Linked DNA regions of Homo sapiens: region 2 is linked to region 1. Evidence: fine-mapped expression QTL. A gene starts in region 1. The other region holds a variant in brackets. All regions are shown on one strand. Distances are from middle to middle.

What was found.
Region 2: its variant is fine-mapped to the expression of TM7SF2 in whole blood (INTERVAL, PIP 0.93).

The regions. Positions count from the first base shown.
Region 1 is chr11:65,110,311-65,113,161 of GRCh38, reverse strand. It overlaps TM7SF2 (transmembrane 7 superfamily member 2), which reads right to left and starts at 1,290. Exons shown (of 10, transcript NM_003273.6): 1 at 1,095-1,290; 2 at 451-647; 3 at 297-351. The coding sequence starts at 1,146. VPS51 (VPS51 subunit of GARP complex) reads right to left here. Exons shown (of 10, transcript NM_013265.4): 8 at 2,559-2,680; 9 at 2,381-2,468; 10 at 1,300-1,835. The coding sequence ends at 1,575. RefSeq lists silencers at 479-908, 2,174-2,349 and enhancers at 1,039-1,088, 1,159-1,268, 1,191-1,485, 1,182-2,107, 2,108-2,851.
Region 2 is chr11:65,070,849-65,073,747 of GRCh38, reverse strand. It overlaps a transcript of CDCA5 not described here. Among named protein-coding and RNA genes, the nearest start is that of CDCA5, 12 kb to the left of the region's middle. The variant T/G (reference allele first, on the strand shown) is at 1,523.

The DNA of each region.
Region 1 (2,851 bases):
AACACACGCAGAGCCCAAAACTCAGGGGGGCCACAGACCCTGCCCCAAGCATTAGGCTGCCACCCTGGCCTTCAGAGGATCACCCCAGCCACTGCTGTGGTGCACGGAGTAGCAGTAAATGGGGTAAGGCTGTGGGGACGAGGGGCATAGGGAGAGCCCCCGGCGTCTGTCCTGGGCGTAACAGAGGCACACAAAGGAGCCTGGGGTGGGGGCCAATCTCCGTGGACCTCCCCGCTAGGCCTGGAGCTCCACCCCCGGCCGCTTAACTCCAGCGCGAGGGCCCGTCCCCTAGGCACCGTTAATAGGATAGCGCAGGCGACTCTTGTCCTTCAATTCCTGCCCCTCGGCCACCTGCGGGTCCAAGGGGGCTCTGATAAGGCCCGGGGCGTCCTTTCCCTCGCCGAGCCCATTCGCTTCCCTCCCCCGAGCGTCCGCGAGCGGGGCCCGCACCTTGCGCGCCGGCAGTAGGTAGAGCGCCGCCTGCAGGCCGAGCCAGGCGAGCCACAGCAGCAGCGCCCGTGGGCTCCACAGCACCTCCAGCCCCGGCAGGGACGCGGGTGGACCCAGCAGGCGCGCGGGGCCCGAACGGGCCGCCAGGAGCAGGTGGAACATGGTGGCGGGCAGCAGCAGTAGCAGAGCCGCGGCGCCTGCGGGAAGGGCCATCACGTCGGGCGTCCGCCCCTAGCCCCCCAGCTCCCCGCCGGCCCGCACGGGCGCCCTGACGTCTCTGCGGGACCCTCTCGGCATTCCCAGAGTGCGCCTCCGCACCCCGTCCTCAGCCCTCGGCCCCCAGGCACCCCGCTGCCTCCCAGTTCCCTTCCCAGGCGTCCATCTTAGTCCCCCGCCCCCAGGCCCCTCGAAGACCCTCCTCCTGCTCCCAGTCGACACCATAAATCCCCGTTCTGCAGCCCCCAGAACCGGCCCCTCCTCAGCTCTCCCTCTCCAGACACCCTTCGCTGCAAACCCCCGGGTCCCTCTGCCTCCGACACCCCCAAAGCCTTCCATCCTCAGATCTCGCCCCCGCTCTTAGTTCACCCGCTCCAGCTCTCCTTCGCTTAGCCTTTGCCCCAGGTCCCATCTCTCTGCCCCATTACCCAGGGGCCCTCCGAATTCCAGCGGGGCCCGGGGGCCCTGAGTGGGGGCCATGGTCTCCGCTCCGCCGGAGAGAGAGGGCGCTCACAATAGTCAGTCAAGGAAACACTGTCCGCCCCATTTCCCAGGAGATGGACTCGGCCGCGCGGAGGATCCGGCCCCGCGGCGCCTGCACCTGCCTGGACACGGAACGCAGACAAGGACCGCTCTCGTCCCAGGGTTTTTAAGTGGAACCGCCCCCTGCCCATGCTGGGCCCAGCACACCAGCCAATCGGCGCTCGGGGGCGGACCCGACGCGGGCGCCTCAGAAGCCTCAGCTTCAAAACCCCGCCCCCGGAAAGGCCCGCCCAGCAAGCGAGAGGAGGAGGCCACACATGTTTATTAGGCCGGTCCTGACACCTGCCTGCGGGGAAGGACCACCGAGACCAGATCCTGGGTGCCATGGGGTGCAGGGACAGACCGGTGCATGGCAGCGGCTGCGCCTAGCCGCGCTCGCAGATGACCTCAACCACACTGGGCTCCATGGGCACAGGGTCTGGGCAGCGCAGGGCAGCAGAGGCCACCACTTCGTCCAGCAGCAAGTGCACGAGTTCTTCGTCGGCCACAAAACGCCACAGGTAGAGCTGCAGAAAGTGGCAGTCCACTTGCACCTGCTGCAGCCCGAAGCGCCCAAAGGTGCGCAGCCGCACACACTCCAGCAGCGTCTTCAGGCTGATCTTGATGATGCCGGTCAGCACCGACACCTGCAGGCAGGGACACAGGGATGCAGCTTGGGGACTGCAGGTGTGTGTGGGGGACACCCAAGTTCCAAGCAGGGGCCCGGGAGACATACGATGGAAGTAGCTGGGATGAGGCAGAAAGTCTCCGGGGCCAGATAAGAAGGGAGGGATACAATATTAGCGCCGTCATCTGGAGGGCAGGGGACAGGTAGGGCCCAGCAATCAGAGGCATCCCTGAGCTTGGAGTGAGGCGGGGCAGGGACCATGGGTGAACAGAAAACCCTGGGGAGGACCCAAGACTACTGTGGGGATAAGGACAAGGGCAAACAGTAATCCCAGGTCAGCACCCAGACTCAGGCTGGGCATACACCAAGACTGGGACAAGGGCTGTGGGATTTGGAGGCAGGGCACTCTGTACTACCTAAAAACAGCCCTAGAGACAGAGACTGGAGGGTCAGGGTCACCCCCAGTTGGTCACAGAGTCCTGGGGCTCCTTGGGCAGGTGTGGGGCTGCTCCAGCCAACCCTCCCCGGGATCCCTGGAAGTCTGAGTCACGTTGGAAGTCGGACCTTGTTGAACTCCACAGGGCTGAACACATCAATACGTTCAGAGAATAGCTTCTGGATATTGCTCAAGAGGTTGGTGTCCATCGGGGCACTGGATTGGGGAAGACAAGGAATCAGAGCCCGCCCTGCACCCTCGCCCTCTTTTGTCCCTTCCCCCTGGGGCTCCCCTGACCAGCCAGACCTGGGGGTATAGCTGGGGGCGTAGCGGCCCTGCTGCCGAGAGCTGCTGTACACGGAGAAAGTCCTCTTGCTGGAGTCGCTGCTCTGGGCCTTGCGAACACCCTCTTCGTACAGGAGCCCCACCTGGTGGTAAAAAGAGGTACTGCAAGGAGGCCCGAGTCAGGGGAAACCACCAGCCCATCGGTGCTGAGGATGCCCTAAGTCAGCTACTCAAGCATCACAAGGATCACAGGGTAATCACCGCGGGGCCCGCTATTTAGTAGGTACATGGTCGCTATTTATAGAACCAGTGGA
Region 2 (2,899 bases), 39 kb after region 1:
CCCAGCATCCTCCCAATAAACTCCTTTTTGCTCAAATCAGCCAACATTGTTTCCTGTTTGCACCCCAGAACCCTGGCTGGTCTAGGGGGCTCCTGACACCTTAGTGGGGCTCATGAGGACTCCAGGCCGAGGCTGGTGTCCAGGCTTCAGCCCACAGACCCACCGCAGGCTGCGAGCTGCTTGGAGGTCCCTGCCTCTGAACCTTTGCTCTCTGCCTCTCGTGTCTTTCCCCACTCCTGCGTCACCTGGGGAGCCCCGCGTCATTAAGTCTGGCTCACGCGTCACCCCTGCTCAGCCTTTCCTCCCCACCTGCCCCACCCTGGTGAAAGCAAAGAGCACAGGTTCTGCAATCCAACTGGGTTTGAATCCTGGCTCTGCCAGCTTCTAGCTGTGTGATCCCAGGCAAATGATAATAATTAGACTCTGATGTGCCTCAGTTTCCTTAACAGTAAAATGAGGACAATAATAATACCTATGCCACAGTGTTTAAAAATGAGATAGTCGGCCGGGCGCGGTGGCTCACACCTGTAATCCCAGCACTTTGGGAGGCTGAGGTGGTTGGATTACTTGAGGTCAGGAGTTCAAGACCAGCCTGGCCAAGATGGTGAAACCTCGTCTCTACTAAAAATACAAAAATTAGCCGGGCATGGTGGCGGGCACCTGTAATCCCAGCTACTCGGGAGGCTGAGGCAGGAGAATCACTTGAACCCTGGCGGGTGGAGGTTGCAGTGAGCCAAGATCATGCCACTTCACTCCAGCCTGGGTGAAAGAGAGAAACTCCATCTCAAAAAAAAAAAAAAAAAAAAAAAGAATGAAATAATACAAGTAAAGCACTTGGTGCATGGTAAGTGCTCAATGAACAATTTTCAAGTAGAACTGACCATTCCCTCCCTTTTTAAGTCTCAGAAGTCCACACAGACCTCCATCATAGCACCTTCAAGCTCCATTCTGTCTGCTCTGCACACACGTTTACACAGTAGCTGTGTAAACTCCAGCTCAGGCTGGAGGCAAGGTTGTATTTGTCTCTGTCCCCCCAGTGTCCAGGCACATCATGGAGTAAGTGGATGTGGTGGTTTCCCACCAGCCTGGGCAGGTGTGCCCCTCCAGTGGGAGCTGGGGACAGGGGCTTCAGAGAGCCTCTGAGTGCCTGGTAGGAGGGGCACAGGTGGAGTCAGGAGTGATGGCACCTGGCACCCTGCCTCAGTCATGAGCCTCCCACAGCACAAATTCTAGTCCCACCAGTGTGCATGTGAGGTCTGAAGCCAGCCCCATGGCTCACACCTGTCCCCATTTCTTGGAGAGTGGACTTCACCCTCCCTCTCCACAGGGCAGTTCCCCACACAGCCTATGGACCCCTCCCTCCTCGCCTGGGTCCTCAGCCCGGTAGCTCACCACCCTTTCAGATGAGGCTTTGGCTCAGGCCTGGTGGTTCTCCCAACACATGGGCCTAGACCAGGCTGCCTTCCCCTCTCCACAGTGTGGCTGACAGGTTGGCAGGCTCCCTGACAGCCACCTGCTTGGG[T/G]ATCAGTCCACCCACATCTGAGACTCTTCTTGAGCCATGGTTTTCTCTTCTGAAAAGTGAGGCCAATTCCATCTCTCTAACGGAGTTGGTCAGGAGGTTGATGTCATATGCAAAGCAGCCAGCAGAGTTCCTCATCACTGATGGCTAGTAGCATTTTACCCAGCCTGTGATTAACCCCTCAAAGGAGGAGATTCATTTTTGTACCTTCTCAACATTCAGGGAAGGGCCTTCAACAAAGTTAGGGCTCAGTCAATATTTGTGGAGTTGAATACCCATTTCACAGGCTAGGAGGCTGAGCCCGATTTCCTGCAGCTGCCCCACCTATGAGCAGCAGAGCAGGACTGAAATCCAGGTCCTGAGCTATCTTCTGTCCAAGTCTGAATTAAGCATCTGTCTGTGCTTGGCTGGTGGGACCCTGAGAGGACCCCAGTCCTGTCTGTCTGTCTATCTGCTCATCCTCCTCACGTACCAACTGGTAACCGTGGAGCTTTTCATGCCTCCCAGTGTCCTCTGATGGGCACCAACATGTGGCCATAGTGTTAGAGTTGCTAGATTTAGCAAAAAATACAAGATGCCCACTTAAGCCTGAATCTTAGATAAACAACACAATTTTTAAAGAGTAAGAGTGCCCTTGCCTGCAATCCCAGCACTTTGGGAGGCCGAGGCAGGCGGATCACCAGGTTAGGGGTTCGAGACCAGCCTGACCAACATGGTGAAACCCCGTCTCTACTAAAAATACAAAAATTAGCTACTCAGGAGGCTGAGGCAGGAGAATTGCCTGAACATGGAAGGCAGAGGTTGCAGTGATCCGAGATCGCACCACTACACTCCAGCCTGGGCAACAAAGCGAGACTGTCCCCAGGAAAAAAAAAAAAAAGGAATAACTGTTTCCCAAATCAGAGAAATAATAGATAGTTTTCTAGTACAAGTATGTTCCATGCCACATATGGGGTATGCATATGTGGGTTGAAAATCCAAAATCCCGGCCGAGCACGGTGGCTCACACCTATAATCTCAGCACTTTGGGAGGCCAAGGCGGGCAGATCATGAGGTCAGGAGATCGAGACCATCCTGGCTAACACGGTGAAACCCCGTCTCTACTAAAAAATACAAAAAATTAGCCGGGTGTGGTGGCGGGCACCTGTAGTCCCAGCTACTCGGGAGGCTGAGGCAGGAGAATGGCGTGAACCTGGGAGGCAGAGCTTGCAGTGAGCCAAGATTGCACCACTGCACTCCAGCCTGGGCAACAGAGCGAGACTCTGTCTCAAAAAAAAAAAAAAAGAAAAGAAAATCCAAAATCCCAAACTGTGAGCACTGCCCTGACATTCACTGTAGCATTTTGGATTCTGGATTTTCAGATAATGCTAATATTCCAAA